Homo sapiens: one gene and its partners. The protein of the gene in region 1 purifies or fractionates together with the protein of each later gene. This does not show direct contact. Each region holds a gene or a part of one and is shown on either strand. Other genes may lie near its edges.

Evidence for each region.
Region 2: the proteins of TMPRSS13 (region 1) and C1GALT1 purify together in Homo sapiens (affinity purification with mass spectrometry; one large-scale study listed by BioGRID and IntAct). This does not show direct contact.
Region 3: the proteins of TMPRSS13 (region 1) and TGFBR3 purify together in Homo sapiens (affinity purification with mass spectrometry; one large-scale study listed by BioGRID and IntAct). This does not show direct contact.
Region 4: the proteins of TMPRSS13 (region 1) and FUT8 purify together in Homo sapiens (affinity purification with mass spectrometry; one large-scale study listed by BioGRID and IntAct). This does not show direct contact.
Region 5: the proteins of TMPRSS13 (region 1) and GPC6 purify together in Homo sapiens (affinity purification with mass spectrometry; one large-scale study listed by BioGRID and IntAct). This does not show direct contact.
Region 6: the proteins of TMPRSS13 (region 1) and FAM177A1 purify together in Homo sapiens (affinity purification with mass spectrometry; one large-scale study listed by BioGRID and IntAct). This does not show direct contact.
Region 7: the proteins of TMPRSS13 (region 1) and ALG9 purify together in Homo sapiens (affinity purification with mass spectrometry; one large-scale study listed by BioGRID and IntAct). This does not show direct contact.

Annotation. Positions count from the first base shown.
Region 1 is NC_000011.10:117,902,772-117,905,402, forward strand, and holds part of TMPRSS13 (transmembrane protease serine 13), read right to left. Parts: intron 1,331-2,631; coding exon 1,188-1,330; intron 1,037-1,187; coding exon 884-1,036; intron 681-883; coding exon of another isoform or gene 666-680; exon of another isoform or gene 271-665; intron 1-270. UniProt on the Homo sapiens protein: Serine protease. Cleaves the proform of PRSS8/prostasin to form the active protein. Cleaves the proform of HGF to form the active protein which promotes MAPK signaling.
Region 2 is NC_000007.14:7,227,544-7,231,043, reverse strand, and holds part of C1GALT1 (glycoprotein-N-acetylgalactosamine 3-beta-galactosyltransferase 1), read right to left. Parts: intron 1-3,500. UniProt on the Homo sapiens protein: Glycosyltransferase that generates the core 1 O-glycan Gal-beta1-3GalNAc-alpha1-Ser/Thr (T antigen), which is a precursor for many extended O-glycans in glycoproteins.
Region 3 is NC_000001.11:91,876,152-91,879,651, forward strand, and holds part of TGFBR3 (transforming growth factor beta receptor type 3 isoform a precursor), read right to left. Parts: intron 1-3,500. UniProt on the Homo sapiens protein: Cell surface receptor that regulates diverse cellular processes including cell proliferation, differentiation, migration, and apoptosis.
Region 4 is NC_000014.9:65,415,730-65,419,229, forward strand, and holds part of FUT8 (alpha-(1,6)-fucosyltransferase), read left to right. Parts: intron 1-3,500. UniProt on the Homo sapiens protein: Catalyzes the addition of fucose in alpha 1-6 linkage to the first GlcNAc residue, next to the peptide chains in N-glycans.
Region 5 is NC_000013.11:93,824,807-93,828,306, reverse strand, and holds part of GPC6 (glypican-6 precursor), read right to left. Parts: intron 1-3,500. UniProt on the Homo sapiens protein: Cell surface proteoglycan that bears heparan sulfate. Putative cell surface coreceptor for growth factors, extracellular matrix proteins, proteases and anti-proteases. Enhances migration and invasion of cancer cells through WNT5A signaling.
Region 6 is NC_000014.9:35,049,272-35,052,771, forward strand, and holds part of FAM177A1 (protein FAM177A1 isoform 1 precursor), read left to right. Parts: intron 1-3,500.
Region 7 is NC_000011.10:111,833,582-111,837,081, forward strand, and holds part of ALG9 (alpha-1,2-mannosyltransferase ALG9), read right to left. Parts: intron 2,714-3,500; coding exon 2,584-2,713; intron 1-2,583. UniProt on the Homo sapiens protein: Mannosyltransferase that operates in the biosynthetic pathway of dolichol-linked oligosaccharides, the glycan precursors employed in protein asparagine (N)-glycosylation.

The DNA of each region.
Region 1 (2,631 bases):
TCATCCTTAATTTATAACAATAAATAGTAAATACCGAGGATATTCCAGGCATTGTAAATGGCTGATTTTGATAGATTAGTCAGAGTTCTTCAGTAAGAAAAATGGAAGATGAGAGGGTGGAAGTGGGAGAGGGGACTCTCTAGGGTGGATCAAGTATTCCAAAGGCCAAGGGCAAGGTAAGGCACACACTGAAGGGTCTGTGGTTCAGTTTGACCTGAGCAATGACTTCTGAGGTTGGATATAGGTTAAAGCAAGTCAAAAAACATAAAATAACTTTTTATTATTTTATTACTTTATACTCTTTTATGATAGTAGTGAGGTTCTGATGAAATATTTTAAGTGGGAAAGGGAAAGAATGGTAGTTCTCAGGGAGCATTCTGGTGACAGCTGTGAAAGTTGTCAGAGTTAAAATGGAGTCACTTGTGTTTTTAAAAAAAGACAACAACAACAACAAAAAGAAAATCAAAAAGACTAAAACAAACAGAGCTGGGAAAGGCCATGAAGAGCGGATTCCCATGCATAAATGCTTGATAACAAAAACTATCACAAAATCCTCTGCAGAAACTGAAACGTTTTCAAAGTCCATTGCAACCTTACACAAAAAAATACTTCTGGGAGAACATCTGCCCAGCAACTGCCTGCCTGGCCTGTAGGTCCACCCTTTTTCAACCCGCTGAGCTCTGTTCTGAGGGAAGAAAAGCAGGGAAAGAAACACAGACAGCTGGGATTGACCCCAGGCATCACATTTGACCCTGTCCAGAACACCCCCCGAATATGGGGACGCTGAGGGGACCTCTGCCTACAACCTGGGTGCTCCTCCAGGGTCCCCACCTGAGGAAGTTCCCAGCCTGCTGGGTGCAGTGTCCTGCTGCAGGGATCTTACCTCCATCTTGCTGTAAATCCAGGGAAGAACTTCTGTCACTTTGGTGTACACACCAGGTTTGTTTCTCTGGCCACAGCCTGTGCCCCAGCTGGTGACACCTGCCAGGTACCAGCGGTTGTTCTGCTCACAGACAAGAGGCCCCCCGCTGTCTCCCTGCAGGGGAGAGGGGGCACATTCGCAGGATGGGACAGGTGGTCCATGAGCGGGAAAGGGTGGGGTCCCAATTCCCACATCAGCCCCAACACCCCTGCCTCCCCCATCCCCAGGGTGCTGGGACCTGAGCCCCACCCACAGGTACCCTCACCTGGCAGGAGTCTCTGCCCCCACGAAGGTCCCCAGCACACATCATCCTTGGGGTAAGGTAACTGTCATAGACCAAGTAGTCATTGCATTTCTTGAAGTCGATGAGATTGACCTGCACCTCCCGGAGGAAGGGGGATGTCTTGTCTTCAGTGAAGTGGGGTGGAGGAGACAGAGGATGGGAAGCCAGTGAGATTCTAGATAGCTTCCTGGCCGTCCAGCTGCCACCCCAAGACCCAGAATCACAGCCTCCTGGGAATGGAGGGTGCCATGCCCGTGCCTGGCTCCCACCCAAGGGAGGCCCTCTGTGGTTGGACACCCAGGACATATGGGCACACACGCCCTCACACAAGACACAGCTCACTGCACGTGAGACAGAGACATCCATGCACACAGACACACTCACAAGCCTATCAGGCTACCCGACATGTTGCACAGCACTTGCCTACGTTCAAAGCACCCTCAGATACATGGCTTTGTTTGTTTTTGGAAGCTATGTGCCCTAAAGAGAGCAGGTGGCATTAATCCATTTACCGGTGGGGAGGCCTGGTGCTGGAGAAGTGACCTGCCCACAGTCACACAGCTAGTCAGGTATGGAGACAAGAGGAGAAGTAGGCTGCACCCACATCAGTCATTGCTCTGCCTCACGGAGGGAGGGAAAAGCGGTCCTGATGCATGGAAGTGGCCTGAGTCTAACCATGGGGTCATCCTGCTCAAAGTAAGCAATCTCACAGGACAAGGCACTCTGTGATTGGGATGACATGAAAACAAGACCACTTCATCATCTTGTTTAAGGCCAGACAAAAACAAGGTCACTGTGCAAACCACAACAGTACCAGACATCCCCCTCTCCTGGCCAATATGAGTGACTGCTGCTTCCTTACCACTTAGAGCTCCTAGATAAGATTATATATATATATATATATATATATATATATATATATATATATTCTTAATTGAGACGGGTTTCACTCTGTCACCCAGGCTAGAGTGCAGTGGCATGATCATGGCTCACTGTAGCCTCAACCTCCCTGGGATCAAGTGATCCTCCTGCCTCAGCCCCTCTCATAGCTGGGACTACAGGCACACATCACCATGCCCAGCTAATTTTTCTATTTTTTGTAGAGATGGGGTTTTGCCATGATGCCCAGGCTGGTCTTGAACTCCTGGGCTCAAGAGATTCTCCCACCTTGGCCTCCCAAAGTGCTGGGACTACAGGTGTAAGCTACGGTGCCCGGCCTCTAGATAAGATTATTAAGGTTCCCAATCATAACCCCTGCTTCCTGACACCACAATTTAGAGAAAAGTCCTGCGTCTTTGAACCCTCCCCAAGCCACCTAAATCCTACGAGCATTCCCTCTCTGACACCCTCTTGCTGAGATGCTCCATGGTTCTTCATGGTGTGTTCTCTCTCTCATTGCAATGAGCAATGAACTCAACTAGTTCAA
Region 2 (3,500 bases), on another chromosome or scaffold:
TATTTCTAATTCTTCAGGCAGAAGGAAAAGAATTTCAGATAAAAATTCAGAGATGTAGGAAGGAAGGGAGAGTCATAAAAAGGGTATGTATGTAAGTAAATCCAAATAAATATTGGCTATAATAAAACATTTTTTGAAAGTCTCACAAGATATTAGTATTATTACCATTAAAACAAATTACAAAACTGGCATCAAAAAGTATAAGGAGGATCCATAGAGTTTAAGAGCTCTAAAGTCATTTCACTGTCCAGGAGTTGTTTAAAAAAAAAAAACTGATTAATAATAGCCTTTAAAAGACCAAGGATGTCTAATATAATCTTTAAACAAACAAACAGTAAAACAATATAATTAAATTCAAATACAAAAAAATGAAATGGGAAAATACCCCAAATCAAGGCAATGTTAAAAAAAAAAAAAAAAAGGGAATATAGAATAGATGAGACAAATAGAAAATAAATAGTAAGGTGGTTGATTTAGAACCAAACATATCAATGATTATATTAAAAGCAAATAGACTAAAAACTACAATTAAAAAATAAAGATTGCCAGCCAGACTCGAGAAAAATAAACTCATCTACATGCAGCTTACAAGAGACACATATTAAATAGATTTATAAAGTTGAAAGCAAAATAATAGAAAAATATACCATACAAACAGTAATTAAAGGAAAGCTTATTGATACCACAAAAAAAACTAGTAGTTACATGGCTTGTTCTCTGTGACATTCATTAAGCTCTACATTTATGATTTTACATACTTTTCTGTATTAACATTTATTTCAGTAAAAAGTGTATACAAAAACCCATTCATGTGTCTTTATCCCATTAAGTACATACTTAATATATTCATATTTGATATAAAAATATCCCAAAATCTACAAGTAAAATTGACATGCCATGACAACACACCATGCTTATGCTGCATTATATATCTTATATTTCAGGCTCTCTCCTGAATTGTAATTCCAGTTTGGGAAGAAAAACCCTAAGAGGAAGAGGAGAGGTGAAGGAACAGCACAGTATAAGCAAAGCTGCCCAGTATCTTGAGATGTAAATTAACCATCTGAAACTATCAGATACATGTTTACACCTTTTGCTCTATCCTGACTGTACCTTCAAGTTCAGAAAGGTAGGCCTTCATGGATGATGAGTACATAGCCCCACTCAACGATCCTTCTCTCTACACCCAATCAAATTTGCCACAGGAAAACCAGAAACAAGTTTACCATGTCTTTCTGCTGTTTTCTCTGATGAGGGGGTCTCAAATTCTGCCTCCCTACTGCCCCCTTTCCCTCATTCAGGTTGGCCGTTAGTGTAATCTTTATATCCAAAAGATACAATAAAACATATCCCTCCTGTCTTAAGTGATTGTTCTGAAATTCTAAATATCTCGATTGTCTGAGGACCAGTTCATTAGACCTTGCTCTAACCAGAAATCTTGGTTTGAAATTTCATTCAAACAGCCAGAGAGAACTGATTAGTCAAGTATCTGTTCGATATTATACAAGTCCTTCCTTTAGCAGTATACATGATCAAGACAATCTACAATAGAGGTATGTGATATGAAAGTACCATGAATTGAAAACATGAAGCCAAGAGAAGTAAATGAAAGATGTTTTAACTCTTAATTTCTTATGGAGGAAGACAAGCAGAATACGATTGAAGCAGTGAACCTGGAGCATTAGCAGATACTGAGTTGTCACTCTCTACATCCTCTGATTCTCTCACTAACACTTTGCCTTACAGCACACTGATCTTGGTTTTCCATTGCTTTTTGTCCTAGCTGTGATTTTGCCTTAATACCATACACAGCCACTTCACCATCTCAGAAAAGAACAAAGACAGTATTTTACTGCTGCAGAGTCTACCGCTCCTGGCACTGGAGAAGAAAGCAGTAGTCACAATGCCATTCAGTACCACTTAGGCAGAAAGCACTGTGACTGAGAAGAGGAAGGACTGCAGGACCAGAGAAAATTCCTATTTCTATCATCATATGGATATCTGAAGTTAAAGAAGTGCTAACCCAGCTCCATCAACTATGAATACTAACATGCTACTCAATCATATTCCAAGGACATGCTGAGCTTCAGAACAAGCCTACTTCTATAACACAAAAACAGTTACTGTTTGTGGAAAGCTACTGAAGTACTTATGGACACAGTTTTTCTTAGCTGAAGAGGCACTTTTTAAGCAAGGCATCTATCCTGGAGTGAATGTAAGGAAAACTGACTTCTTGGTGTTACGTAATTGTTTTTAACTTTAAAATGTTTTGTGATGCTGTCTGATGCCTGTCATACTCTCTTACTCTTCTCCCCCAGAGTATCAGCACACTCAGAATGTGTTGGCTCCTCTTGTGTTGTGTTTACCACATTCCCTTCCAATTTAAAGGACTCCGGCCTTATGACTAAATAACTGTAAACTCCCATTTTTTTTTTTCCTGCTCCTGGGATAAAATAGCCATCTCATGGGGGTAGAATGCATCCCAAAGCTCACTCAGATTTTTGGCAAAAATCATGTCCACAAGAGTGTTGAGGTAGACTAGACTGGAAAAAGACACAGCTTAACCACACTGCACATTATGAGGGCTTAAATACTATTTCTTTGAATTGGGTGGGGGAAGTTCTTTATGCCAAGTGCTTCCAAACCTGATGTGTAATCAGAATCGCTTGAGGATATTTTAAAAGTACAGATTTCCAAGCTTGACAACTGAGGTTTCAGATACAAAAGAACTCCCGGGACAACTAAAATTTATATTTTAATTTTATTTTTAAAGGGACAGCTTTATGCTATTCATTGTTAAAAAAGGATTTAGAAGGAAGAAATCATCACAAGTCCTACTACCCAGAAACAACAATTATTAATATTTTGTGATTATCATTACAGGTTTCTCTCTAGCAATAACAAAAATAGGAGAGGTAATTACAGTTAACATTTGAACCCTGTACTAAGAGCATCTGCAAACTATAAAGTACGGACTAGTATTCCCATTTACAGATGAATTCAGACACAGAGAGTCACACTAGCAATCTGAATCAGGAATTCAGACTCTTAACCACTTTGCTATTATGTCTTAGTCCATTTTCTGGTATTTATAACAGAACAACTGAAACTGGGTAATTTATAAAGAGAAAGCATTTATTTCTTACAGTTACGGAGGCTAGAAAGTCCAAGGCCAAAGGGGGCACATCTGGTAAGAGCCTTCTTGCTGTTGAGGACTCTCCTCTGAAGAGTCTTGAGGTGGCACAGAGCATCACATGGCATGAGGGATACGCATGCTAACGTGTTAGCTTAGGTTTGTTCCTCTTCCCTTTTTTTTTTTTTTTTGAGACGGAGTCTCGCTCTGTTGCCCAGGCTGGAGTGCAGTGGCGGGATCTCGGCTCACTGCAAGCTCCGCCTCCCGGGTTCACGCCATTCTCCTGCCTCAGCCTCCCAAGTAGCTGGGACTACAGGCGCCCGCCACTACGCCCGGCTAATTTTTTGTGTTTTTAGTAGAGACGGGG
Region 3 (3,500 bases), on another chromosome or scaffold:
ATGGGAGGTGAGAAGAAAAGCACCAAGAGCTAAAACACATTAGCCTCAGTGACAAGACTAAGAGTTATCAAAGATTATGCAGCATCAGGAAAGTCTTATTCAACACTCTGTGGAGGTGTAAGGTGTGAGAAACAGGAACTAAGACCTGCCGGGGCTGATCTTCTGGCAGTGGAAAGGAGATTTCTTAGTTAACACCTAGGTCTCACAGGACCACTAATCCTGAAACTAGCAGTAGGCATCCCGAAAGGCTAGTTGCTTCTGACAAGTGCTGAGGACAATATATTCACCCACACATCATCCAAATGCTAGGCTTCGCACCTCCATACCTTTCCCACACTAACATCCCTAGTTTTCTCCTCCAGCAGAATAATGCTAGGCAGCAGGGACTACATTTCAGTTCAAAGCATGGTAAAAAAATTCATATAACAAAAACCATAGCACCACTACCAGGTATGATGCTGTGAGCCCATAACCTGGGACCATTCAGGCAGGAAAAGGCTTTACCAAAAACACAAGCTGGGTCCCGGAACACTGGACCCAAACCCTTTCATGTCAGCAAAAACTGCCTAAATGCTCTTCTATTTGCTCTCTGAGAAACAAAAAGAAGCCGAAGGAGGAAAAGGCCTTTAATCCTAAAATTATTCTTAATTTCCAATACAGAGCATTTGAGAAAAATCTGAAAGCCAACAGAAAAACTAGCAGATTCTTTAAAATGTGTGTCTACAGTCCTTTCTCCTTTACCCTCTGCAAAAAAAAAAGCAACCCAACTCCCAAATGATCATTTTTCTTGGCTTAATTTCACTATTTTTTGTGATACATAATTGGAAACAGACTGCTTTTTCCTGGCTTTAGAGAACAGGATCTTCAGGGTTATAAGAGTTGCCAACTACAGAACCTCAACCTTAGCAAAATTTTTTTGCAAACCTCTTACCTATCTACCTACTTGAAATACATATTAACTCCAAAGAAAACACGTAAATCCCCTATTATTATGCAAAAGTGGATTTTCTCCCAACAAATTAGACACTCCTCTCCTTTTCCTAGCCTACCCATTGAAATCCTGCTCTGTGTTCAGCTATGTCCCATTCAAACATGACCAAAAGCCCTAACCAGCATGGTATCTAGATGGGATACTTTTTGGAAGCATTTTCTTTTTTCTTCATATTTTCTTTTTTTGTGTGTGTGGTGGGGGTAGGGACAAGGTCTCACTCTGTCACCCAGGCTGGAGTGCAGTGGTATGATCATGACTCACTGCAGCCTCGACCTCCTGGCTCAAGCCATCCTCCTGCCTCAGCCTCCTGAGAAGCTGGGACTACAGGCACACACCACCATGCCTGGCTAATTTTTAACTGACATTTTCAGGAATTTAGTAGAATTGGTTCTACAGGAAAGCTCCTTATTTAGCCCACACAGTGAATGAAATTAAAACCTGGAACGTCTTAGAGAACAACCACTCTAACAATGAAATAAAGATGCCACAAATTGAAAAAAGATATAAATATGGAAAAATGTGAAATGCAACAAGTAGGTCATCCTTCCCCTAGCTCCTGTGTCAAAAACATGATACATCCAATGGCTGTACAGCTATTGTAACGAATAATGAGTATGACAGCTTAAAAGCTCAAAGACAAGTGTCTTTACAAAATGGGCTGTTGGCATAAGTATTTTTTTCAGGATTCAGATGATTTATCACGAATACATAACAAGTAGCAATCTCTCTAAAGTCTCGAAAATAAGAAAATGAATAGGAATGTCTATTCAGAAATGCTTTGGCTAAAAGATAGACCAGCAATAGGAAACATGCCCATTTAGATCAGAAACTTCTCCCACACACATAGGGAAGACCTTACGCTGCAATGATGCAAAATGTATGTAATGAGTCAATGGTGCTTTCCCTCAAAGTTAAATTTAATTTGCCAGCCAACTGCACAAAATCTAATATAACAAAATGAGATACTTATTCTTTATGGAGACTCAGAAGAGTTTTGTTTTAAAGAAAAAACCATAAAAGAGATAACTCACAGCAACACAGTGAGTATCTTACAAAAGTACTCAGGGTACCACATGAACACAAGCCTTTGTGATTAGAATCTAAGTTTTTCACCTCAAATAACCTTCCAGAATGAAAAGAAAAAAAAAAAAAACACACATTCTGCTCCAGCAATTATCACACAGTTAGTTAATTATAAAATGAAATTTCCAAATAGTCTCCAGAGTATTTTTGCATCCAAGGACCAATATCACACTGTCAAAACAATAAATCACTAAAAATGCTAACAAAACGAATACTCCCAAAAGGGACCCTTTTCACTTGCCAGATGGAATTAAGTATTCATCAAGTTTCCATTAGCAAAATAGTATGATACAAATTTAAAAAGAAATCCAGAGTTCTACTAGACCCTCCACCTGGCCCATTTGATGTTCTCACCTATAAAAGGTAGTGAGTCATGCTTGTGAAACTGCAGACCTTCGCCCAAGGCAATCTGATCCACAGGAAAGCTCAAGGACTAGTATCTGTAAAGATCATTTTCTAAAGATCATTTTTCAAGGACTAATCAACTTAAATGTGTTTTTACAAATGATCCATCAGCAATTTTACACAAAAAACCTGACCTTCGGCATATACCAGAGAAATGAATTATGTGCCTGGAAGGACAGAAAAGCAGGTGTTTCGTCCTCCTGCAAACAACACCCAACTCCAAAGGCCCCCTTCACTAGGAGTCCAATGTCCAGAAAGTATACGCTTCTTTATAACCATTTTTTAAGTAAAGATAGAGCTAACATTTCAGACTTAATTCTAAATTATCTTGGCAACAGTTTAACATTAAAGTGGGCTTGCGGGCATGGTGGCTCACGCCTGTAATCCCTGCACTTTGGGAGGCTGAGGGGGAAAGATCACTTGAGGCCAGAAGTTCGAGACCAGCCTGGACAACATGGCAAAACCCTGTCTCTACTAAAAATACAAAAATTAGCCAGATGTGGTGGCCCCCGCCTGTAATCCCAGTTACTTGGGAGGCTGAGGCACAATAATCGCTTGAACCCAGGAGGCAGAGGTTGCAGTGAGCCAAGATCACACCACTGCACTCCAGCCTAAGCAACAGAGCAAGACTCTGTCTCAAAAAAAAAAATAACCATTAAAATCTAATTCTAAAAATCAACTTTGCTAGGCTCTACATATAACTGAATCCTCTTCCCAGGATGGAAGAAGATTTCAACATAAAAGAACCACCACCACAAAAACCAGACATTAGGCTCCCTGCCCTGCCCCCCGACACCAAAAAATTATCTTCAGCAGGGCACATTAGGATGGCCTGAAGGCATGGTTCTGGGGCTCTTGTTCTAGACCTTCCATTTTAAATATGGTCTCTATCCCTCATAAGCAGTTGTCAGCCTATTAAGTCTTCATCTTTGGCCTGAAAAACTGAAGAATAAAAAATGAAGAATAAGTTCCAAATGACAGTAGCCTCATGCAGAATTTATATCAATGTTGTTTCAAAAAC
Region 4 (3,500 bases), on another chromosome or scaffold:
CCTTTTAGACATCTGGAGAACAATATCCCCAGGTCACTTAACCCTTATCTCCTGCAGTATAATGCAGTGCGTCCAGCTGATCTACCAAATTGAATGTGTGCCTTTGAATACGAAGCAGTTGTTTTGTGGCCTGTGGCATTTCATTTAGGTTTCTAAGCTGTAATAAATTAGTATGTTAATTTACTTCTTTCCATTCACATATTCTTTAAATCCAAGCCTAGAAACTGATAGTTATATGTATATTAAAATCATTGGAATATTGGTTTTTTTGCAGATAGTGTTTGGGCTGTTTATTATCCATAGCTCTTCATTATGTAAATAGAATCTCAATGCTGATAAAGTAAATAGATTCTTCCATTTCATTAATGGTTATTTTTGATTTATGATAAACTGCATTTAATAAATCTCTTGATTTAGTTAAATGGTGGATACATCATTTCATATTATAGCAAATTGATAAATATAAAAGAAAGTTTTACAATCATAAGAGTAAATATTTAAAAAAACTTGAATAAGTTACTTTACTAAACATAAAATTAAGATTTTTAAACAACTCTGAAACTAAAAGTATTACTATTATGGTACCTTTTTTTTTTTTTCCCCCAAAGAGATGTGATCTTGCTGTTTTGTCCAGGTTGGCCTTGAACTCCTGGGCTCAAGCAATCCTCCTACCTCAGTCTCTTGAGTAGCTGGGACTATAGGCATGTGCTACCACAGCCAGCTTTATTATAGTACTTTTGTACCCTGCATCAATGCTGCTTCTGTTGATACTTTTCAAAGGAGATATCAACTTCTGGTCTTCAACAGTAGTGTAGCATCCTCTTATTGATTCTCTGGCTCATATTTCACTACCGTATAGTATGGAGTTTCTTTCTTGGAGTTTGAATTGTTTTTACATTGCAGCTTGTTATAGTGAAACAATTAAACATATTTAAAAGTAAAAGATATTTACGACTGATTTTTAAAGAACCTGTAAAAAAATCTCCAACAGAAGAATATTATATGGGGATGTGTAGATTTAACATTTTATTTTCTTTAATTTTTTTTTTTTTTTTTTTGAGATTGGGGTTGGGGGTTGTCTCTCTATGTTGCCCAGGTTGGAGTGCAGTAGTGGCGTGATCACGGCTCACTGCAGCCTTGAACTCCCTGGTTCAAGCCATTCTCCCGCCTTAGCCTCTGGAGTATCTGGGATTATGGGTGCATGCCACCATGCGTGGCTAATTATTTTTTAATATTTGTAGAGATGAGACCTTGGTATGTTGCCCAGGTTTGTCTTGAACTCCTGGGGTCAAGTGGTCCTCACACCTTGGCCTCCTAAAATGCTGGGATTACAGGCGTGAGTCACTGTACCCGGCTCCTTTATTTTATTAAAAAGATTTTTGTTTGTTTGTTTGTTTCTAAGTTTAAAAGAGACAGGGTCTTGCCATGTTGCCCAGGCTGGTCTTGAACTCCTGACCTCAAGTGATCATCCCACCTTGGCCTCCCACAGGCGTGAGCTACCATGCTTGGTTGTAAGATTTTTAAAAAATGGATTAGTTTCAAATCTCAACTTCTCTTTCTTTCAACATTCTAATCTCCTGGCATTTTTTTCCTTTCCCCAGCTACCCCCCATCATCCAACAGTCTTCCATTTGGAATAATGGGAAATCAAACCAATAAAGTTAATCTTACCTCCCACCAGGCAAAGGTTTTTCTTAATCTCTACAATATTCTGAACATAAAACCCATATAAACTTTATATGATACTACACATTTTCCTTTTAACGGAGGAAGAGCAAATGGGACCTATGGAATTATGCCGTATTTGTCAATATAAGGGTTACTTTTGTACTCTTACTGAAAGCAGAGTTATAGGGCTAATTTCATTTAAATTTTCTTACCCATCTACTTTAAAAAAATACCTCTTTGTGGTAGTCTTTTTTTTGGTCAGAAAATGACAATGTGAAGGAGAAATACGTTTTGAATTTATAAATCTTCTTTTAATTAACAAATTATACCAATATAAGGGTAGTGTTAATGTGGTTCAAATTTGCCTTTGCTATTCTGCCTTTTCTTCTATAGTGATTGTATAGTTATACTATAACTTCTTCCTCGAAGCACTGGAATAAAAGAAAAACTTTTAAAGATCACTACGAAATGCTCACTGTATTTGTTGTATTTTATAACTTGGGTTTTTAAAATTTATTTTTCCATAAACTGAATAAATATGAAAACGAACTTGAAAGATCTTGTCACAGCCTTGATGACTGGTCAGTATAAAGTTCACATTATAAAATAATAAAACATTGATAATAATCTTAGATGAAAATGGAAAATTAAGCTAATGTTTATTTTAGAACCTGAGTAATGAGTTTATATCATGTAGCAATGAGGCACATGAAGACGGTTAGAATTAGTTTTTCTAATGAATAAACTTCATGATATAAACTTGAAAGTGCATAAATGCTATAACTTTCTGATTGTAAACTTGAACAAAAGTAAAATGAAAATGGGAGAGTCCTCTTAATTACCTTTAACGTATAACTAAAATGAACCTGTGTATCTGTCTAAGTCTTATTTGATCAAGACTTTCAATGGACAATGAATGAGTTTTAAGTTTTTATCAATGTTGTGACTGATTTTTCTATAATATCCCTTAAATGAGATATCAAATTCTAATAATATCTAGAACCAGATTAAATTTGGTTAGAGTATAAACAATATTTACAAACCATCAAAACTATAATAAAAGCATTGTAATGTTATTTAATGACTTAAGCCAACATTCCATAAGCTAATCTAAGCATTTTTACAATTAATACAATTGATAGTAATATCTTAATTAGTGGTAAAGTGGACAGATATAATTTATAGATTCTGTATTGTCTGGGACCTTGGGGCAGTCAGTGAAGAGAGGGAGATAGAGAGAGGAGCATACTGGTTGATGAGCTTGCCTTATTTGGAGATGAAGGAGATTTATTCAGTTTTTCTCTTTCCCTCTACTTACTTCTCCTTGTTTGTCATCCTCTTCTAGCAATGGTAAGAAATGCGGGAATTGACCATCTTTACAGTATACTTTTTTCCTTAGAGTTCATAGAACATTTCCAGGTAAAACATTAGCTTTTATGTTATAATAGGTTTATTATAATGATATCATTTCCTTTTGAGGTGGTAGGCAAGAGACTAGAAGAACTTCATTTGTATAGCATTTAATATTATTTATTAAAAATGATTTTATAGGCCGGGCGCGGTGGCTCATGCCTGTAATCCCAGCACTTTGGGAGGCCGAGGCAGGTGGATCACCTGAGGTCAGGAGTTGGAGACCAGCCTGACCAACATGGAGAAACCTCATCTTTACTAAAAATACAAAATTAGTCGGGCATGGTGGCACATGCCTGTAATCGTAGCTACTTGGGAGGCTGAGGCAGGAGAATCACTTGAACCCGGGAGGCTGAGGCAGGAGAATCACTTGAACCCAGGAGGCGGAGGTTGCAGTGAGCCGAGATCTTGCCATTGCACTCC
Region 5 (3,500 bases), on another chromosome or scaffold:
TTGGCCTTGCTGATACAGGAACAGGGTGGAAGGCGTAACAGATTGTGAAAGAAGATAAAAAAGAATGGGAAAATCACTGAATTGAAAAATACTAATACAATGAGACTGGAAAGTGGATTCTAATCATGAGCTCTGCAGCCTATTCATTTATCTTCTTTTTGAGGTCAATTATTTTGTTGGACTTAGGAATTAAAGCTTAATTTATTGAATACAGAATACTGCCTTCAGCAATGAATAGTAATCAATAGTGTGGTCTGGATTTGCAAAGAGCTTTAAAAAAAAGAGAAAGAGAAAAAAAAAAATTCTCTGATACTCATTGCTTTCCAAAGTCTTGAGAAATAAATGTTTGTCTTAGGAATAAAAATATCATTTTCTCTTTTACTGAGGGTAACACCTCCTTCAGTTTTTTTTTATTTTTTCTTCTGCTGATATGAGGACTCTGAATATTGAGCTATGCCCACTTTGAAAGTGAATGGTTCAAACAAGACTGCCCACTCACTATGTCTTGTGGTTTGTTTTTCCCAAGTTTAAATTAGTATTTGTGATTGAGTATAGAAACCAAGTTATCACATTTCAATAAATACGGCTCAAATAACATTTTCTTAGATTCCAAGCTTACATTGTTGTCTAAGAGTATGCCATTGTCTCAAAAGTTTTCTATTAACTTCACTGATCCTCAAAGTCAAGTTATTATTATTTCTTGTTAAAAATCATTACATGGTTTACTGATCTCATAGTCAAAGTTAATATTTGGTATTGAAAGACGCTAATGTATCAGCCAATTATGACAAATGTTGCTACCTCAAGGCACATTGATCTAAGATCTTATGAATAATGGAGATCCAAGGTACTGAGGCAAAGCTAATGTCCTCCCAAAATAAGGGTACTCATTTCATTTTCACCATGACTGTAGACATCCACCTTTTGAAATCTGACTCTTTGAACTAATTACTTTATGCTTGGATGAAAATTGTTTCTCAGCAAACCAAACAAGATGGAGATTTAGAAGACAGTTATGTGATCCATTTTACTGATGAAGTATCATGTGCAAGCAACATCAGAGAGAACAAAATTCAAGGACAATATAAGAAAAAGCAATCTCAACTGAACTCTTTTTAATGGAAGAGGACAAAGCACACATTGGATAAAGTCTTCAGTCAACAAAAATTTTTATCTGCAAAAAACAGTTTGGCAGAAAGAAATGCTATTTGATTTTTTCTTCTTCCTCAATCACAAAATATACATCAAAGTTGGTTGCTCAGGGCTCAGTTACGCTTCATAGGTGCACAAAAAACCTTTCCTAGCCAGCATTAGCCTCTGGGAAGATTTTATTCATCTAGAGGGGAGATCTCAATGCAAACATCTGTTTGCTTCAGGGCAGATTGTCTCAAGTGGGAGAACAGTCTTGTAGATAAAAACCACCACTGTTGCAAAAGCAAAAAGAAGGTCTGTGTGATGTGGCCTGATCACTTGGAGAGACCTCTTAAGGGGCAGAAACCAACCCCAAGGAGCCAAGAGGTGCCCTAAGGATAACTGAGAAAGGCTCCAAATGAAGCCTCCAAATAAGTGGACTGAAAGGTAAGATGGCACACCGGGACAAGGGGAAGCACAGAAAAAGGAAAAAGGCAGACAAGAGGCTCTCTACAGTCTACATCACACAGCAAAAGCTTTTCCCATTCAACTCAGAAATGTCTTGTTAACACTACATAGATAAACATGTTCTGTGCTGGATTAGGTACAGGATTGGATTAAGTACTATATAACATCCTTTTCCTATTTTTTTTCATGCTCTCAGAGACATTTCCTATTAAAAACTTGCTTAAAATGAATGTTACAGCATGGTGGTGTGAATCTATATCCTTTCGGAACCCAAGGAGTGAAAAGCTTTGGTCATTAGTCAGTCGAGATTATAGCACTTGTCCTACTGTGGGAAGCAGGTATGCTGTTTCCTTCCTTAAACCCAGAAATACACACATGTGTATGCAATTGTGTATGTTTGTGTAGTTATCTGCTAATCTCTTTGTTTCTACTCTCCCTCAACAACAGTATGATAAATCAGTTTGGTCAGCCCAGCCAAGCTGTGGGTAAGGAATGCTCCATAGGAGGGGCTGACATGGAGGATAAACTGGTTCTGAAAGCTGACATCCGGCCGGGTGCAGTGGCTCATGCCTGTAATCTCAGCACTTTGGGAGGCCGAGGTGGGCAGATCACCTGAGGTCAGGAGTTCGAGACCAGCCTGGACAAACTGGTGAAACCCCGTCTCTACTAAAAATACAAAATTAGCCAGGCATGGTGGTGGGCACCTGTAGTCCCAGCTACTCAGGAGGCTGAGGCAGGAGAATCACTTGAACCCAGGAAGCGGAGGTTGCAATGAGCTGAGATCCTACTGCTGCACTTCAGCCTGGGGGACAGAGCAAGATCCATCTCAAAAAAAAAAAAAAAAAAAGAAAATAATAAAATAAAAAATAAAAGATGAAAGCTGACATCCTATAAGGGTTATGATCCATAGACACTCAATAAACTTACCAGCCTGTCTTCCCTCCTGCCTTTCTCAAGGTGAAATGAGGAGTAGTCTTTCTCATTCCACACACATGTGTCAGCTTTCAGATATATCTTTGAGATCATTTCTCCTTTCAAAAGGCATCTTGCTTATGTAACAGCCTGATATAATCTGCAGGAAAATGCTGAGTTAATGAGGAGCGTTAATGAAGGGAGACCCACAGTGCCATTTATCCTCTTCTGCATTAGACTGTGAGGGAGGGAAAACATGGTCCCAAATGGCCTATCTCTTCCCACTTCCCAGAGGCTGGGACCTTGAAAGTAAGTAGAGTAAAGATGGACATTGCTCAGGACGTCTGTCCTTGCCACATGAGGCGGTGTCCTTTGCAAGCTGCAGCTTGTGTGCTATTGAGCAGTAGATGACCCTAGTCTATCTCAGGTGTCAACTTCAGCACTGTGCTCATTTTGAGCTGGATAATTCTTTCTTTGGGCAGGGGTTTGGGGAGCACTGTGCTGTATATTGTAAATTATTAAGTAGTATGCCTGGCCTCTACCTTTTAGATGCCAGTGGCACATCCTTCTCTGAGTAGTCACAACCAAAATGTCATCAAACATTATCAAATGTCCTCTTGGGGACAAGACCACTCTCACTCCCTTCCTTACCCCCACCTGCTGAGAGCCACCCTTCTACTGATAGATTCCAAGGTCTACTAATAGAACATTAAAAATATTCAGAGAAAACGCCAGCCTATTTCTAAACCACATCTCATCAACCCCATGATTTGTTTGTAATACAAATTTGAGGTGCTGTGTCTTAAATGGAAGGAATTGAAATACAGATTGTATTCACAGTAAGATTCTCGGTAGTCAATACTCCCATTTCCATGTATGGTGCCTGTTACATGATAGTGCCTTAAAAAGTGGTGAATAGTGAATGAATGAATAGATCGATGGATGAACATGACCATCCAGTGAAATACATCCTGACTCCTTTGGTTCTG
Region 6 (3,500 bases), on another chromosome or scaffold:
TAAAATTTCAGTACCACTCAGTGATTGATTTATTTGGTACCTCTGTTACCAAGCACTTACTATGTGCCAGGAACTCTAGGCTGAAAGATATAGCAGTACCTACCCCCATGTTGCTAATAGCCTAGTTGGGGAAGATGACAAAGAATAAATTCTAAGTCTAGTATGTGTTTTAAAGAAGTCTGGGTGCCATGGGAGTATATACAAAAAATTGCCATTAAAACCAGATCCTGAGCTGGGCAGAGTGGCTCACACCTATAATCCCAGCACTTTGGAAGGCTGAGGCCAGTGGATCACTTGAGGTCAGGAGTTCGAGACCAGCCTGGCCAACGTGATGAAACCCTCATCTCTACTAAAAATAGAAAAATTAGCTGGGCATTATGGCTCACGCCTGTAGTCCCAGCTACTCGGGAGGCTGAGGCAGGAGAATCGCTGAAACCCAGGAGGTAGAGGTTGCAGTGAGCCAAGATCGCACCACTGCATTCCAGCCTGGATGACAGAGCAAGACTCCTTTTCAAAAAAGAAAAAAACAGATCCTGAGAATAAAGATAAGCACATTTATAGTTTGGTTAACTATAAAATGGAGTAAAATGTTAATTGACATGGTACCTCATAATTTCCTGGTGTTATGAAACTATCTTTCAGATCTTTGGGGTTCGTTATGGAATTTGCATAATTGGCAGTGAAATTTTTCTTACTTGCAGATTTATAAAATGAAGCATTTGGAAAATTCACAGTGTAACTTTTTTTGTTTTTTGAGACAGAATCTCACTCTGTTGCCCAGGCTGAAGTTCATGGCGCGATCTCGGCTCGCTGCAACCTCCACCTCCCGGGTTCAAGCAATTCTCCTGCCTCAGCCTCCTGTGTAGCTGGGATTATAGGCACGCTCCACCGCGCCTGGCTAATTTTTGTATTTTTTTAGTAGAGGTGGGATTTCACCATGTTAGCCAGGGTGGTCTCACACCCTTGACCTCAAGTTGTCTGCCCGCCTCAGTCTCCCAAAGTGCTGGGGTTACAAGCATGAGCCACCATGCCCAGCCACAGTGTAAATTTTATTTGTAATTATTGGATTTCTGGTTCAAGTTGATGTTTGAAAAATAAAAAAAGAAAAATATTTTAAAAATATAATTATTGGGAATTTTGTATCAAATGATTTTCTGGTTGGTTTTACCTGTTAGTGCTTCCTTCATTGCCCCCCACCCCGCCTCCCAAATAGAGGTTGGAATCATTATCCCTCATCTGAAATACTCTAAAATCTGAAGCTTTTTGAGCACTGACATTCCTTCCTTTGCCTGTGTCATAGAAGGAAAAAATTAAGCCAATGAGAGATTGCTAGAGGTAGCAGTGAGAAGCCTCTACTGTCTTGGGGGTGGGATAGGGTGGGGCATGGTGGTATACTGTGAAGGATCTGAGCTCTCTATTCACTGACTGGAGCTGTTGCATTGACATTAGATCCATCCAGTTAGTAGGATGACTGGAGATCTAACTTAGCTCATCTGTCTTTCCTTTGCATAGGAAATTAAGGGATCCAAAAAGCTGAGTCATGGTCCAAAAGGAAACGTTGATGTCAGGACAGCCATAGCCAAATTTTATCTCAAGGGTAAACATGAGACTGGGTAGGGATGGCTGTCAGTGCCTGGGGATTGGTGGGGCTTGGGGGTAGGTAGAAGAAAAGTGTCCTGGGTTAACTACTTGTTTATTTTTTTCATGGACACAATAAATGACCTGATCTTTCCTTGTTAAGGGCTGGGATTTATTTGAACCCTCAGGACAGGCTAGAAAGAATTGTGACTTTTTTTCATGTTAATACATAGGTAGCCTATGTTACCAAATTTTATTTTTTAAGATAGTTTATTATTTTTATTTTTTGAGATGGAGTCTCGCTGTGTGACCCAGACTGGAGTGCAGTGGCACGATCTCAGCTCACTGCAACCGCCACCTCCCGGGTTTAAGTGATTCTCATTCCTCAGCTTCCCGAGTAGCTGGGACTACAGGTGCGTGCCACCACGCCCAGCTAATTTTTGTTTTTTTAGTGGAGACAGGGTTTCACCATGTTGGCCGGGCTGGTCTCCAACTCCTGACATCAGGTTATCTTGCCTTGGCCCCCCAAATTGCTGCCATTATAGGCCTGAGCCACAGCACCCAGCCTTATTTTTATTTTTTTGAGACAGTCTGGCTCTGTTGCCCAGGCTTGAGTGCAGTGGTGCGATCTCGGCTCACTGCAACATCCACCTCCTGGGTTCAAGTGATTCTCATGCCTCAGCCTCCCAAGTAGCTGAAATTACATACGTGTACCACCATGCCTAGCTGATTTTTGTATTTTTAGTAAAGTTGGGGTTTTGCCATGTTGGCCAGCCTGGTCTCGAACTCCTCACCTCATGTGATCCTCCTGCCTCAGCCTCCCAAAGTGCTAGGATTACAGGTATGAGCCACCACGGCTGGCCTGTTACCAAATTTTCATGATCTGCAGTTCAAATCCTGGCTAATGACTAAACTTACCTTTGGGAGGTAAAAGGCAGAGAAGAATCATATCTGTTTTCTAAGAAGGACCTTAGAAGATTAAGATGAAACAATGTATAAAAACAAAGTAGCTTATACTTGCATAACTGGGCAGTTCACTGTTTTTATCAGTATAATCCTTTTTTTGCAATAGCAATTCAAAGAGCTTTTCCAGTGGTTGAACAGCAGTCATGGGTTTAAATTATGTTTGCTTATAACCACAAGAATCTTTATAGAGAACAAAATGTTTGTACTCTGGACTATCCTAGAGAATTCTACGAACATAGACTGTAATCATGACATTACTGTAGTCCTGTATATGCAAAAAGAATAAAAGCCCTCCTTTGACTACTCCCTTGCCTTCTGCTTCTCCCCCATCTTAGTTTCTACCCATGGGGTAACCACTGTTGCCAGATTTTTCTTCACAATTGTATGTACTGTACCTTTTTGAAATCTGGAAGTTTAAACTTCAGGCAGTTTTCTTTTTTTTTTTCCGAGATGGAGTCTTGCTCTGTTGCCCAGACTGGAGTGCAGTGGCGCGCCTTCCAGGTTCATGCCATTCTTCTGCCTCAGCCTCCCGAGTAGTTGGGACTACAGGCACCCGCTGCTGCGCCCAGCTAATTTTTTATATTTTTAGTAGAGACAGGGTTTCACCGTGGTCTCGATCTCCTGACCTTGTGATCCGCCTGCCTCGGCCTCCCAAAATGCTGGGATTACAGGTATGAGCCCGCGCCTGGCCCAACTTCAGGCAGTTTTATTAGGAGTTTAAACTTGAGGCAAGAGGACAATGAAAAGAAGCTCTTCACCATCTCCCACTATATATATAGATATATATAGTGTAAATATATAGGAGTAAAATTTGTATTAGAATTCCAGCTCAGGCACAGTGACGTATGCCTGTAATCCTAAAACTTTGGGAGGCTGAAGTGGGAGGATTGCTTAAGGCCAGTAGTTGGAGACCAACCTGGGCAACATAGCCAGACACTGTCCCTATAGAAAAAAAA
Region 7 (3,500 bases), 6.1 Mb from region 1:
AGCATTGAAGCCAAAGGCTGGCTAAAACCTGCCACCCAGAGCTAAAGGTCCATGCCTAATTTTCATGATTCTGCCACCACAGATAAGCAAAAAAATCCTCGCATTCAAAGGGCTGGACACAGCTGCTACCCAGCAGACATAAATCACTTGTTTTTCCCTGCTTTTATCAGCCAGCATTTTGGTGACTCCTACTGGCATCCTGAAAAATCATCACCTTTCGGGTAAAGCTCATATAGAGTCATTTAATCAAATTTAACACTGTCTGACAGCAGAGAATATGGAAATATGATCTAACTAAGACAACCAGTGATAAAAGCCTAAGAAATGTGCAAAAGGCCACTGTAGATTTTCTAGCCAGCTTTCTCTCAACATCATTACCACAATGACGATGAATATTCATTATCCACTGAGAAAGCATGTAAAAGTGAACTACTGGGTACATGACACCGTCCTAGACACTATGGTGAACACAAAAGAAACAAAGTGCAGTCATTCTCTTCATGGCATTCACATATTTGATGTGGAAAGATATGATATCAGAAATATTTAACTAAGACCAAGAAAATTAAATGGCTAAATGAACTGCACAGATAAATACTGAAGACACTTAAAGGAAGGTCTGCTCAATATGGACTTAAATAGTTCACTTCAAAGAGGAAGATAATTTTGATAGTGTGAGAAGAGACACAAGGGTAGTTCAGGCATAGTCACCAATATAAGCGAAGTCACTGGGGTGGAAAACGCAATGATGAGTCTGGAGACACTGGAATAAAATTACAAGGATGGGAAACAATAAAAAGAAGGAAGGGGAGAGATTGGGTTTCTTTACCTGGAATCTGTCTAATATACCATTATCAGATTAAGAACACTTGTGCAAGCATAAGAACATTGCATTTTTGCTACAGAGAGATATAATATCAAATATCATAATTCCAAAGTAGGTGCCATTTTACAGACAGAAACTGAAATTAAACAGAGAAGCTAACTAATTTGCCCAAGGTTATCAAGTTTAGCAACAGAGCTGAGGTTTGAATGCAGGCCTACTCAACTCCAAAGTCCACGCTCTTTTTTTTACTACTCCATTTTTACTACCTCTTCCTAAAGCAAAGCTCCGATAACATCACTCTGAATTCATACTGTCCCCCTATGACAGTGTATTTTCCCACCCTTTGACTGTCCAGCTTCTCTAGAATGATGCCCTGCACTCAGGAGACTCATATCTGCAGATAAAATTAAAATGACCTGTAACAGTCTACCCTGCCCAAGGGTATTTCCATTGTAACAGGAATCAGAGCCTTAAATTAAAAGAATAAAGCTCTAATACAATCCATGTGGCAGAAACGCCTGTCTTACAAGGGAACAGCTCAAGGCTGTGTCTTTAAGTGTCCATTTTCATAGCTTATAGTTACAGCTCATACAATAAGAATCTCACTCATAAACCCTGAGGGTCTCCATGGAACTCTAACCAGCCCCAATCTGGGAGACAAAAGACCAGATGTGGCTGCAGGTTTGCTTCAGAAGAGAATTGGAAGTCTTGCTATTTTACATTTTAAGCATATGACATAAGAAAATGTAAATTAAATATAGCTGACATTTAAACTGTTACATATTTCTTTAACGGACAGGTTATCAGGTTATCAAAAAATGTGCTTTCTAATAATTCTAGACAACGATCTTACACTGTCTTTGTGACCCAAAAGGAGCATTATCTTTATTACTTCTTACCTTTTTCATTATCAAAGATTTCACAGGTATCAAATGTCAAAAGTGTCATCTTTCAAAGGAACTGAAGTAAAATTCGCATGGGATCTCAGAATGTGTAAAGACAAGTAGGGAGAAGATCATGGCCCTGACAGAGGCTGCTCCCTGGCATTCAGTATGGAAACAGTCTTTACTGTTCATTTGTTAAAACCGGAATATACTAATAGCTAGGTCAAAGGTCCACCTGATAACTTGAAAGTTCCTCATTAAGGATTTTAATAGGCCAAGGAATGATATGAGTTTCAGAATAATGGTTCAAACTTCTACCGTAAGAAAACTTTCAGCCTACCCAAAACCTTCAAAATTAAATTATACATTTTACATAGAAAATAAAGAGGTTAATTTGAAAATAAAAGTGATACTGTTTACTGTTTTTCAACAAAAGCTGTTATACCCCTCATCCTAAAAAATATCCGGTTTTTTTCTGAGACAGGGTCTCACTCTGTTGCCCAGGCTGGAGTGCAGTAGCGGAATCATGGCCTACTGCAGCCTTGAACTCCGAGGCTCAAGTGATCCTCCTGCCTCAGCCTTCTGAAAGGCTGGGATTACAGGCATAAGCCACCACACCTGGCTTATTTTTTAATTTTTTGTAGAAATGTGATCTTGCTATGTTGCCCAGGCTGGTCTCGAACTTCTGAATTCAAGCAATTATCCCGCCCGTCTCCCAAAGTGCTGGGATTACAGGTGTGAGCCACAGCACCCGGCCTTAAAAAAATTGCTTTCTAAGAAATTCTCATTTTATCAATGCTCTAATATACACACCAACAGACTTTTAGGCATAGAATTCTTTTCAGAGAAGCAAGAAGAGAATGTAGCCCTTACATATCTGGATGGCTCTTCTAGATTCTGGTCATTCATGTCAGTAGGAACAATCCGGGTGGCCAGAGGTCCTTCTGCAAAAGGTTTTGGTAACTGACCTCTGAACTCTGATGGAATGAACTGAAGCTGCCAACTGTCAGAAACACAAGGAGAATAAGAAAAACACAGGGGGATAATATTGCTAAATGTACTTGAAACAAACAAGCCAGGAAAATCATGTGAAAAACATTTCTCTTGAAGAAAAAATATTTCTGCTAAAACCTCAACCAGGGAGCACAGAGGCAGAGGTCACAAGTCAGTCCAAAATCATTGAGAAATTTATAATTAGATGTCTCTTGACCCATTTCACCAACTGTTAGCAGTGAAATTCACAACCAAATGGTCATATCATCAAAAAACCAGAGAAGTGCCAATGCTTATTGTCAATTACTATGTGGGCAGAGAGACTTATCAAATAAAGCAAATTATCAGGTGTAGAGAAAAAGAATGAAATGTAATATATGGCACTGAGAACACACTATGGGAGAAATACTTTGTTCCGGAGTAACCCTCAAACATATCTTTATCTATAAAACTATTTCAAACGTAAAAGGCAAAGGCTAAAGTCAACACTTAAAAAACAAGTTTTAATTTAATCATTAATGACTGACACAGGGTCTTTATGAAGCATAAGAAACTACTACCCAGTAAAGCCAAGCTACTGAAGCCATTTCTCAAATGGAGCAACATGACTCATCTTAACCAGATTTCCCTTTAACCTACACAGGACTCTTCTCTGGCCAAATGAAGCAAACTACAAAGAACTTTAGGGCCTATGCTCTCAGAACCACAGAAAGCATAAAGGAAACTGGTATAGACATTTTAACCACAGCCTTCCCCAGTGTCCACATAATGGTGGAGAACTTTCACTACTGTTGGGT